Regions from separate parts of the Homo sapiens genome. Here regions 2 and 3 are each linked to region 1. The links come from fine-mapping of genetic effects on gene expression. A gene starts in region 1. Each other region holds a variant in brackets. All regions are shown on one strand. Distances are from middle to middle. Region 1 holds the start of NEMP2 (nuclear envelope integral membrane protein 2). Region 2 overlaps MFSD6 (major facilitator superfamily domain containing 6). Region 3 overlaps NEMP2-DT (NEMP2 divergent transcript).

What was found. PIP is the estimated chance that this variant, and not a neighbour inherited with it, causes the effect. A credible set is the group of variants that fine-mapping cannot tell apart.
Region 2: its variant is the best candidate, but not a certain one, in a credible set for the expression of NEMP2 in whole blood (TOPMed, PIP 0.86).
Region 3: its variant is the best candidate, but not a certain one, in a credible set for the expression of NEMP2 in tibial artery (GTEx, PIP 0.53).

What each region holds. Positions count from the first base shown.
Region 1 is chr2:190,532,152-190,536,392 of GRCh38, reverse strand. It overlaps NEMP2 (nuclear envelope integral membrane protein 2), which reads left to right and starts at 1,671. Exons shown (of 9, transcript NM_001142645.2): 1 at 1,671-1,834. The coding sequence starts at 1,738. It overlaps NEMP2-DT (NEMP2 divergent transcript), which reads right to left and starts at 1,555. Exons shown (of 5, transcript NR_183903.1): 1 at 1,272-1,555. RefSeq lists a silencer at 1,358-2,007.
Region 2 is chr2:190,473,695-190,477,935 of GRCh38, reverse strand. All of the region lies in intron 4 of MFSD6 (major facilitator superfamily domain containing 6), which reads right to left. It also overlaps a transcript of NEMP2 not described here. Among named protein-coding and RNA genes, the nearest start is that of NEMP2, 59 kb to the left of the region's middle. The variant C/G (reference allele first, on the strand shown) is at 2,266.
Region 3 is chr2:190,559,755-190,563,995 of GRCh38, reverse strand. All of the region lies in intron 1 of NEMP2-DT (NEMP2 divergent transcript), which reads right to left. It also overlaps a transcript of NEMP2 not described here. Among named protein-coding and RNA genes, the nearest start is that of NEMP2-DT, 27 kb to the right of the region's middle. The variant C/T (reference allele first, on the strand shown) is at 1,832.

The DNA of each region.
Region 1 (4,241 bases):
AGTGTTTCCTGCTCCTGCTGCTCCCCAAAGGGCAGAAGGTTTGTGCTTCTATCTCTTCTCCAGAAGCAGGGGGTCTTTGCCAGGATCCTGTTGGTGGTAAAGCTTCCTGCCCTTCCCCCAGTGGATAAGGTTTTCATACAGAAGAAAAGTTTGGAGAGGTTAAGTGGAATTTCATGATTGTCCCCCAGTGACAGAACTATCACCTCCTAACATTCTTGTTATCTCCGGAAAAATATTTATTGCTTATAGAGAAAAATGTGGTGTTTCAATATAGCTTCTTTACAGATATTTACTAAGGATCTGTGATATAAATAGCACTTTAAATATTTAGTACATTGCTGCCTGCCCTTTTGTTTCTCCACCAGATATATCTGTAGAAAATACATTCATCATTCAACAACCCACCTGTTTATTTTAGCTACTTTCCATAGTGCCATCCAAAATTAAACCAAATCAAAATGAATGTGGTTAGGTACAAAAGCTGTCTTGCAAGAAGCAAGTGCACACCGCACCTGGGAATACAGGAAAGAATTGGATCAGGGCTCTGCTGTTTCTCTGAAGACAGGCTTCACTCAAGTAATGATGGTTTATTTTTAAAAACCATCCCTCTGAAGAGTCCCTTACAAGGAAATTTCTTAACTTTTTAAAAGCCATACATGGTGTACACATGGTGCCAAGTGCTTAAGGGCAGTTGGTTAAACCTTTCTTTGAGGGCAAGGAAAGCCTAGTCCATCCTACTCAGACTTTTAGGAAAAATGAGGCTTATCTATTTTTAACAGGATAATTTCTGTTACTTTGGGTTCTCTAAGATATCTCACCAAAAGACCAGAATTAGAGAAGACTGTCCTAGTTAAGTATGGAATATTGAGTCAAATTAATGGGTTCCAGGTCCTGTGGAGGGAATGTTCTTTAAAATATATGTATATCTCCTAATTATCAGTATTAAGATCATTCAGGTTATATGTTAATTTAAAAATATATCTATTACATTAAGAAACTTTTTTTTAACATAAGGTAATTTTAAGAGAACCTTGTCATGTTGGTGAAGGAACATTTTACGAGCCCCTCTGTACTCTGAAATGCCGTGTCCGAGATTAGACATACAAGTCAGTGTTACTTAAGCGGCCAAATTTCCAATTTGTTATTGCTTGTTACCAAATGAAAGTAAAAAGATAAACAGAAAGGTAAAATAAAGAAACTGGCTTTTATGTATTTTATTCACAAAAAGGGCGTTTGCCGAAGGACCTTCCCATTCACGGGCTGTCACTCACAGGTGCTCGGAGAATTCAGCCTCCAAATCCGCAGGTCACAGGTCAGCCAAGTTTTAAGAAACACTCCGGGTTAGCGACTCTTCCTCTCTGCAACTCCCACCCCTGCGCCGAGGGCAGCGGGACACGGCCGGGCGGTCCCCAGGGGAAGATGAGGCCCTGGACGCCCCGCGTGCGCTGGAGGCCCGGAGGCCAAGGCCGAGGCCGAGGCCGAGGCCGGGAGCATGCCAGCGGGGTCGCGCCACCGAAAGCTCCTCCGGCCTGGGCCCGCCGTGCCCCGAGGCCGCGGGCGGAGGCTGGAGCAACGAGCCCAACTCTCCCTCCGCCCCGGGGAGGCGGGGTCTCCGCCTTTCCCGCGTTCGGGCCTCACCGCCCCCTCCGCCTTCTCTGAGCCCCCGCGCCACTTCCGCTCCTCGCAGCGGAGCCGGTCCCCTAGGGCTCGGGTCGCACGGAGCTGACCCCTAACGAAATGGGGCCGCGCCAAGGGCGGTGGTGGCTGCTGCTCTGGCTGCCGCCCCTGGCCACACTGCCCGTGCGCGGGGAGGCGGCGGCGGCAGCGTTATCAGGTAACCCGGGACCGGCGGCGGCGGCGCGCGCGTGCGTGCTCGCTCCCCGGCTTCGCGGCTGCCCTGAGGGCGCGCTCTTTGGCCCGGGCGGCACCGCGAGGCCCACTGGGGCGGGCGCTCCCTTTTCTCGCTTTGGGGTCTCCCGGGCAGGCCCCGCCCGCCCTTCCTGTCTTACTGGGCTTCCGTAGTCTCTCGCCTGGCAGTTGGACATTTTGTAATTTTAGAATTAGAAGCAACCGCGCGATCCAGTCGCCCAATTCCCTCGTTTTACAGAAGCAACCGAAACTCAGAGAGGTTTTGATTTGCCCAGGGTCACACAGCTTGTCACTGGCACAGCTGACCCTAGTCTCCAGACTTTCAGCACACGGCCTTTTGTACAGTACATCAATGCGTGTTGAAATCCTTGTTATTTCACTATCTCGCATTCCTTTGGTCTCAAGACTAGAGAAGGTAACAGCTTCAGCTTCAGAATCGGAGCGAAAATTCTTCTGCCCCTGACTGTTGTGACCTTGAGCGAGTAAACATAACGGTCCCACGTGAGCGGCAGGTAATGAGGCCTCACAAGGTTCTTGTGGTGTTCGTGTGCACAATGCCTGGCACACAGGAAGCAAGAACTGGTAGCGGCTGCTAGCTGTAGGGGCTCGCCACGGAGTGGGCTTAAGATGCTGGCACACTGGGGAAGGATCTGGGAAGGACACCTGGGGAAGTCAGAAACCTAGAGTTCCAACTCCAGACCTGCCGCTAACTTACCATGAGCTTCACATTTCTGTTTCTTTTTTTTTTTCCCCTCATAAAATCTTTTAAAAGATTTCCTGGGTGCACTGTCTACCAACTTCCCTTCCTTGCTTTGGCTACCCTGGTTTCAAGGGAGGCTGCCAAGTGTATTCTTTTAGCTGGGCATGGCCCTCCCTCCGGTTATACCGCGGTTTTTTATCTAAGGATGAATGAGAGACTGGATGTTGATGAGGTCATTATCAGATTCTGCCACAGCTCCCAACTGAGGGAATCTTGCAGTGAGTTATATGTTGGGGAAGTGTTGGATTCCAGTTTTCATTGAAGAGAAATTTTTTGAGTGTTCAGTATGTGCTAGGCAGTGTTATAAGTGCTTTAACTGCAGTATCTATCATATTTAATACCCATAGAAGCCCTATGCGGGAAAGCACCATTTTATACCCATTTTACAGATGAGAAAACGAAGGTTTGGTAGTAAGAAATACAACAATTTTATGCTGGTGAAAAAATAAAACACAAATCTGTCTAAGCAGGAAGGTTTCTGGGCATGGCAACAGCGAGAAAATTAGAAGTAGCCTTAGACCAGCACCCAGCACCTTGGGTTCTAGACCACTCATTCCTTCAGCCACAACTTGTGGTATAACCTTGGTCCAGGCACAGAGTCTTTATGGACCGTAGTTTTCTCTTGAGTAAAATGAAGATGTTTTTACTGAAGAGTTTCCAGTATTTTCCTCACCTCAGTGAACCTGGTGTTTTTAAAGTTTTTATGTTACCGCATTTAGTATAATAGTAACAGCCTGCTTCTCTGCTTTGTTAATCAAAGACACACATAAATACTTATTGGAGCTTCTGTTCTGCCTGAGACATGCAGGATGCCCACTGACTTGATAAAACTAGTCCACAGCTAAGAAGAATGGCAACTTTTGTAGCCTTAGAGGGATGCCTGCCATTCCGGTAGGCTTTCCAATACGGACTGTGAAGCGCCCAGCATCTGGTAGTGTGCCAGTGACACTGTTGGCAGCCCTGGATTAGACTAGGCTTAAGAACCATAGCTGCTCTTTAAAAGTCTATGGTTTCTTGAGGACCCTGAGAGGAAACAGCTGGTACTTCCTTTAAGCGAGGGGCTTGGATTAGTGATACCTAAGGTGCCTTCCTGTTCTAAAATTTTGTCTTGAATAACACACACTTCAATGGAATGGAGAACATTCAGACCAACCCCAGCTTTCTGTCACTCTATTTGGAGGAAAGTCAGAGACAGTTGACACAGGAGGAGCAGGTAGTTGTCTGACTGAGAGGAGAAACTTCAAGAGTTTCCCATAATTTTCACCCAGTTAGTGAGGTCCCTAGAAACCATGTGTTGTCCTGAGATGAAGTTCAGGCCCTGTCAGTGGCTTTCCAGGCTTAAACTATAACAGTCCATTTGACACCACAGCTTTAAGATTCATCTGTGAAGATTTGAACTTGAAGTTAAAGACCTGAGTGTGCATGAGTATATACTAATTCCAGTTTCATTCTCATATTCTTGGAGAAAGAAAAAGATGAATATTCAGGTTAAAAAAAACTGAGGTTAAGAGAATAGTTACCTTTATCACTTTGGTGCCTCACGTTAACACCTTTGAAAATGTGTATTTACAAAAAACAAATAGTAAGAAAAATCCTGAGTCCATTTGACTTC
Region 2 (4,241 bases), 58 kb after region 1:
CCTACTCTCTTTAGACCACCTGGTAGATTCCTATTCGCCCTTCAGAATCTAGCTTATGTGATTTTTGTAGGGAATTTTTCAATACAGTCTTCATCCTCCCACTCCCTGCTTCACAAAGTTAATTATTCTCCTTAGGGTAAGCTCCTTATCTGCTACCTAGCACATTTTTCTATGATTCCATCTAACATGCTGTATAGTTATTATGTGTTTACACATCTGGCTTCCAGAACAGTTGGTGAGACCTTGTGGCCTGAGTTAATATATGTATATATTTTATTACATTCTCAGCACCCAGCATGCTGCCTGGCTCTTAGTCACCATTTAATATATCTTTAATAAATTAACAGGAAAATGCATTTTTAAATTCACACAGCATTTGTTTTTTCCTCTTATAAAATTATTCTGTTGTTCTTTAACCGTTTCATGGATGTTCTCTTTTCTTGGGTCACTTATGGAAACCGTCCTTTTCCACCTAACTCATTTTAAACTAAAAGGATAAAAAAGTTATATGCATGTATTATTATAATATATAGTCATTTCTTTTCTGTAGGTATACAAATCTTTATTTATAGAGTCTGCACACTGTAGCATACCAATAAATAAAGCAATTAAGCCAGGTCAGGATAGAACAGGAACCAGAGGTGGGAAATCCTAAGAACTGTGTTGCATATTACCTTGTTATTGAATCATTCTTACCTGCAGTTCCTGTTTAATGCATTGTTATTATTATTATTATACTTTAAGTTTTAGGGTACATGTGCACAACGTGCAGGTTTGTTACATATGTATACATGTGCCATATTGGTGTGCTGCACCCATTAACTCGTCATTTAACATTAGGTATATCTCCTAATGCTATCCCTCCCCCCTCCCCCCACCCCACAAGAGTCCCCAGTGTGTGATGTTCCCCTTCCTGTGTCCATGTGTTCACATTGTTCAATTCCCACCTATGAGTGAGAACATGCGGTGTTTGGTTTTTTGTCCTTACAATAGTTTGCTGAGAATGATGGTTTCCAGCTTCATCCATGTCCCTACAAAGGACATGAACTCATCATTTTTTATGGCTGCATAGTACTCCATGGTGTATATGTGCCACATTTTCTTAATCCAGTCTATCACTGTTGGACATATGGGTTGGTTCCAAGTCTTTGCTATTGTGAATAGTGCTGCAATAAACATATGTGTGCATGTGTCTTTATAGCAGCATGATTTATAATCCTTTGGGTATATACCCAGTAATGAGATTGCTGGATCAAATGGTATTTCTAGTTCTAGATCCCTGAGGAATCGCCACACTGACTTCCACAATGGTTGAATTAGTTTACAGTCCCACCAACAGTGTAAAAGTGTTCCTATTTCTCCACATCCTCTCCAGCACCTGTTGTTCCCTGACTTTTTAATGATTGCCATTCTAATTGGTATGAGATGGTATCTCATTGTGGTTTTGATTTGCATTTCTCTGATGGCCAGTGATGATGAGCATTTTTTCATGTGTCTGTTGGCTGCATAAATGTCTTCTTTTGAGAAGAGTCTGTTCATATCCTTTGCCCACTTGTTGATGGGGTTGTTTTTTTCTTATAAATTTGTTTGAGTTCTTTGTAGATTCTGGATATTAGCCCTTTGTCAGATGAGTAGATTGCAAAAATTTTCTCCCATTCTGTAGGTTGCCTGTTCACTCTGATGGTAGTTTCTTTTGCTGTGCAGAAGCTCTTTAATTAGATCCCATTTGTCAATTTTGGCTTTTGTTGCCATTGCTTTTGGTGTTTTAGACATGAAGTCCTTGCCCATGCCTATGTCCTGAATGGTATTGCCTAGGTTTTCTTCTAGGGTTTTTATGGTTTTAGGTCTAACATTTAAGTCTTTAATCCATCTTGAATTAATTTCTGTATAAGGTGTAAGGAAGGGATCCAGTTTCAGCTTTCTATATATGGCTAGCCAGTTTTCTCAGCACCATTTATTAAATAGGGAATCCTTTCCCTATTTCTTGTTTTTGTCAGGTTTGTCAAAGATCAGATAGTTGTAGATATGTGGCATTATTTCTGAGGGCTCTGTTCTGTTCCATTGGTCTATATCTCTGTTTTGGTACCAGTACCATGCTGTTTTGGTTACTGTAGGCTTGTAGTATAGTTTGAAGTCAGGTAGTGTGATGCCTCCAGCTTTGTTCTTTTGGCTTAGGATTCACTTGGCAATGCGGGCTCTTTTTTGGTTCCGTATGAACTTTAAAGTAGTTTTTTCCAATTCTGTGAAGAAAGTCATTGGTAGCTT[C/G]ATGGGGATGGCATTGAATCTATAAATTACCTTGGGCAGTATGGCCATTTTCACGATATTGATTCTTCCTATCCATGAGCATGGAATGTTCTTCCATTTGTTTGTATCCTCTTTTATTTCATTGAGCAGTGGTTTGTAGTTCTCCTTGAAGAGGTCCTTCATATCCCTTATAAGTTGGATTCCTAGGTATTTTATTCTCTTTGAAGCAATTGTGAATGGGAGTTCACTCATGATTTGGGTGTTTGGCTGTTACTGGTATATAAGAATGCTTGTGATTTTTGCACATTGATTTTGTATCCTGAGACTTTGCTGAAGTTGCCTATCAGCTTAAGGAGATTTTGGGCTGAGACGATGGGGTTTTCTAGATATACAATCATGTCATCTGCAAACAGGGATAATTTGACTTCCTCTTTTCCTAATTGAATACCCTTTATTTCCTTCTCCTGCCTGATTGCCCTGGCCAGAACTTCCAACACTATGTTGAATAGGAGTGGTGAGAGAGGGCATCCCTGTCTTGTGTCAGTTTTCAAAGGGAATGCTTCCAGTTTTTGCCCATTCAGTATGATATTGGCTGTGGGTTTGTCATAGATAGCTCTTATTATTTTGAGATATGTCCCATCAATACCTAATTTATTGAGAGTTTTTAGCATGAAGGGTTGTTGAATTTTGCAAAGGCTTTTCTGCATCTATTGAGATAATCATGTGATTTTTGTCTTTGGTTCTGTTTATATGCTGGATTACATTTATTGATTTGCATATGTTGAACCAGCCTTGCATCCCAGGGATGAAGCCCACTTGATCATGGTGGATAAGCTTTTTGATGTGCTGCTGGATTCGGTTTGCCAGTATTTTATTGAGGATTTTTGCATCTATCTTCATCAGGAATATTGGTCTAAAATTCTCTTTTTTGGTTGTGTCTGTGCCAGGCTTTGGTATCAGGATGATGCTGGCCTCATAAAATGAGTTAGGGAGGATTCCCTCTTTTTCTCTTGATTGGAATAGTTTCAGAAGGAATGGTACCAGCTCCTCCTTGTACCTCTGGTCGAATTCAGCTGTGAATCCATCTGGTCCTGGACTTTTTTTGGTTGGTAAGCTATTAATTATTGCCTCAATTTCAGAGCCTTTTATTGGTCTATTCAGAGATTCAACTTCTTCCTGGTTTAGTCTTGGGAGGTTGTTTGTGTCAAGGAATTTATCCATTTCTTCTAGATTTTCTAGTTTATTTGCATAGAGGTGTTTATAGTATTCTCTGATGGTAGTTTGTATTTCTGTGGGATCGGTGGTGATATCCCCTTTATCATTTTTTATTGCGTCTATTTGATTCTTTAATCTTTTCTTCTTTATTAGTCTTGCTAGCGGTCTATCAATTTTGTTGATCTTTTCAAAAAACCAGCTCCTGGATTCATTGATTTTTTGAAGGGTTTTTTGTGTCTCTATTTCCTTCAGTTCTGCTCTGATCTTAGTTATTTCTTGCCTTCTGCTAGCTTTTGAATGTGTTTGCTCTTGCTTCTCTAGTTCTTTTAATTGTGATGTTAGGGCGTCAATTTTGGATCTTTCCTGCTTTCTCTTGTGGGCATTTAGTGCTATAAATTTCCCTCTACACACTGCTTTGACTGTGTCCCAGAGATTCTGGTACATTGTGTCTTTGTTCTCGTTGGTTTCAAAGAGCATCTTTATTTCTGCCTTCATTTCCTTATGTACCCAGTAGTCATTCAGGAGTAGGTTGTTCAGTTTCCATGTACTTGAGCAGTTTTGAGTGAGTTTCTTAATCCTGAGTTCTAGTTTGATTGCACTGTGGTCTGAGAGACAGTTTGTTATAATTTCTGTTCTTTTACATTTGCTGAGGAGTGCTTTACTTCCAACTATGTGGTCAATTTTGGAATAGGTGTGGTGCTGAAAAGAATGTATATTCTGTTGATTTGGGGTGGAGAGTTCTGTAGATGTCTATTAGGTCCACTCAGGAAAGCTGAGTTCAA
Region 3 (4,241 bases), 28 kb before region 1:
ATTAGGATAGCAACATTAGGGTGATTCAGGGAAGCCTTTCTAGTAGCCTTAAAAACATAAACAAGTAGCAGAGGTTGGCCTCCCCGCCTCCCCTGGGGCCAGCCCCACAGAGTAGGGAGGCCTTGGCAGGGCTTTGATGAGTGGGCTGGCCCTTGTTTCTGGTATTGGCTCTGGAATTGCTCTGGCATAATTCACAGCCAATTAATCTTGTCAGGCAGCCTATTGATTCCAGCTATAGCTCAGACACCATCATTACAAATAACCATCCCAATAAGCCATTATCTCATTGGTGCACCCGTTCACTTCAAAATGTGAGTGAAATATTTCAATTTAGACAAAAGATGGGGAGTGTGTTTTCACTGAAACAAGTTACAATGCTCAAAGTGTATACATATACGTTGTGGTAGAGTTTTCAAAAATAGAAAATCCAATTATTGAGTAGAGGAAGTATTGAAAAAATAATCTAAGCATAAAAATGACTGTTTATCAACTACTCATTTGTGGATAAACTTGTTGATCAAGGAAAAAAACATAATGGTCATTAGAAAAAAATTATTCTCCCTCACCCCGCCACTACCGCCCAAAGCACATTCTTGAGCTTTGTCTGCTGAGCAGTGGGAGTGTGAAAACGTCTACCTGCGTGAAGGAGAGAAGATGAGTGGGTGGGTTTGTGGGAGAACAAACAAGAAGGTGGTTGAGTGGGTGCCGGGTCACTGGGCCTGTGTGGGAGGAGGCTGGGCCGCTGAGTCAGCGGGGAGCAGGAGGGCAGGTGCGTGTGGGTGATGAGTGGGTGGCAGGAGAACACAGCACAAAGCCACCTTGCATATGTGAATGTCTCAAGGAAACATTCCACAGGGCTGTATAAAAGAGCATTAGAAAACAATTAATTAGAAATTCTAGTCAGAAGAGGAAGAGCAAAGCTTTGCTGATAATGCTATCATACAGATAGTCATTTTGTGTTTATAAAATTTTGCTTTTCAGAATTATATTTGTGTTTTATAGCCTGATCACTGGAGGAGAACCTGCCACTGACATTGATAATGAATATTTCAGCTTATACATAGTTTTAGGGTGATCTCAGAGTTACCTCTATAAACAAGAGTGGCCCAAAACAGAGCAGGGGAATGAGTTGAAAACTCAAGGTTGAGGTAAACTCAAATTTCCCATCTAAAATAAGCCTTAAGACCCTAGGAAGAAAAGGGTACTTTTCTTTCCCTATGTGTTAGTCGATGGCATTTATAGTTCCTTTTGTAGCTATACATGATATTTAAAAAAATATGCCTTAAAATCTGAAATTGTAGCATAGATTTATATAAAGTTAGGGCAAAAAAGAGTCATAGAGACCATCTTCCCATATTTTACATATTTTCCCATATTTTGCAGAATGAATTAACTGATACTTAGAGAGCTTAAAAGGACTTGTCCAAGGGGTGGGATAGGAAATCTGTAAAGTCTGATCAATCAATTGATCCATCAATAAGCAAACATGGATGGAATGCAAAGGTGCCAGCCCCAACCCATGGCAGCCTCCAGGGAGAGATGTAATGCAGAAACTTGGAGGAAGAAGCTAGGGAGTGCTTAATGCTCCATGGAGAAGTGAGGCACTCTATGGGCTGGCACAGCTGGTTGCAGAATAGAAAGAGCCCCACCGTGGTGCTGCTGTACATATCTATGGGCAGATGGGAGGGACTGGGAACACTTAGCTCACTGTGTAACAGTGTGAGCTTCCTGGCTGGGAAGTCACTTTATCAGACCAGAGCTTAGCTATGGAGTTCACACCCCATTTCTACTGGTCTGTTTTCCCTTTGAGCTAATTCAGATGCTGAGCTTA[C/T]TTCTTGGTCGACTACCCAAAGAGGGAAAAAACTATTTGGATTTTCTCTTTTCAGTCATCCAGGTCATCCTAAATCAAATATTTCTGGTTGCTCTCTTCCTTTTTACCAAAGTCCTTTAATTACCCTTTGAAAACTAGCTTTTCATTTACATTTCTATGTATTAAGAATATCCAGTCAAGGGCAAGATGAAACAGATGGGCAACAGTAACTACATAGTAAAATAAAAATTAAGATCCTCTTATTTTAAAAAATTTTAAAAGTTGGTAGCCTCTGAGACTCTTCCAGGGGCCATTAAAATAGAAAATCCACCTTTCTACCATGCAATTAAGCAACTGAGCTCATTATGTTATGAGAATAACTGTGACATTAATTGCAGTACTGGTATTTTGGCATTTATTTTGCAGAATATATAAATGCCTGTATTTGATTTTTAAAAAGATAGACATATATGGTGTTATGGACTGAACTCTTCCTACCTCTCCCACCAACCTCCCTCCCCCATCCCCTCTGCTAAAAAGTGTATGTTGAAATCCAAACCCTAGGACTTCTGAATGGGACTATATTTGGAGACAGAGCTTTTATAGAGGTAATTAAGGTAAAATGAGGTCATTAGGGGTGGGCCCTAGTCCAAACTGACTGGTTTCCTTATAATTAGGACATAGACTTGCATAGAAAAAGACCACGTGAAGACAGAAGGGGAAGACAAGTCAAGGAGAGAGGTCTCAGAAGAAAAACCTGCTGACATCCTGATCTTGGACTTCTAGCCTCTGGAAGTGTGAGAAAATAAATTTCCTGTTGTTTAAGCCACCCTTGCTCGAGCAGGCCAATACACATAGTTTTCATTATTTGCTACACATTGTCCCCAGGTGTTCCCTATCTGAGACAGGGTTAAGGTCCAAGACAGGGGTTTCTCTCTCCTACTTCCTGACTCTTCTCAAGTAGGATGATTGGAGAAGAAGGGCCTGTTTGAAATAAATTACTCTAGGAGAGGAGGGAAGGCCACAGAGAATGAGCGGTCCTGATGGGAGCAGACAGCATCAAGCCCCAGCATGGGAAGGTAGTAATGGGGCCTAGGAACCTCCTTCCCACTGCTCCATATCTCTCCTAGTCCTCGAGGAAGAAGCACTGGGCACACCTCTGCTCCACGTGAAATATTAACATAGTGTATAAATTCTCTGAGTATTTCTCAAAACATAAATGGTTTTGATTTCTGATGTTAGATATACTAATCTAATGATATTGTACCAACAAATACAGTATTTTGATATTTAAAAGTAACCTGAGATATAAAAACTGGTATTTGTATTTCTAATTCTACCCAGAGCTCAGCTCATTAAAGCTTACAGTTTACAGGATTGAGTCAAAGTGGCTAATCTTCCTACACACCTTGAGGATGTTATATGAATGAACCAAATGCACAATAAGTCGATGGCACTTCAAACAACAGACTAATTAACATTTTTTGGTTAGAAGTTAATAAATTCCTTGTCCAGAGTAGGCTCTCAATAAATATTTGTTGAGGTAAAAAAGAAGGTATCACCTAAGATCAAGTGGCATATTGGTTCAGATGTACAAAATTTTAATCCAGATGCTCAGTTTGTTTTTAAAAGAAGGTGATCCAAAATAATTAGGACAAATGTCATATTTTCTTTAATTTTACATTATGTATGCTGTTAGAGTATAATTTTAAAAAAGATAAAATGACTAACATGCAAGTAGAAATGAGTAGATATAGAAATTGTATTTAACACACTGAGATGAGAGAACAATGAGATGTTAAAACCGATGAGCATTTGAGAAGCTAGTCATATAGGCAGTTGAATAAAGAAAAAAAGAAGTGTGATCTAGTGATGAACACCAGCCTGGAGACCACTGCATTCATGATTTGCCTCTGCCTACTGCTTTCAACCCTCTGAAGCATTCCTATCCCAGCAGCAAAACTGCTTGACTCCCACCCACGGGCTCCTACCTTAAATCAGTCCTCTTTCCAGGCTGAAGAAATGGAAGTAGTTTTTATCTCTAACACAGCAACTCACCTGGCTTCTCATTTTTGCCCTGATCTTCTGCATCAGTACTTACAAGTGGTCTTCTGCTTTATGTCCTGAGTCTGGCCCACACATTGCACACCAGAGCTGATACCAGCCTAAATCCCTGTGCATCAGCTGCAGGCTTGGAGACCTGACCAGAACTGCCACCCTTTTAGGACTGAGCTTCTGCCTCACTCACCTCCTCCTTTTAGATACTGCCTATCTGCATCTGAATCCCAGAGCAAAGCTTGCAACTCTGCAATGGCTGACAGATTTCCCGGGTGCCAGCTACCTCCCTGGAGCAGCCAAACCTCACCTACTTCTGGACCTGCTGCCAGGGGCCAGGATACTCCTCTCCACTCACCTCCCAGGACATACCTGC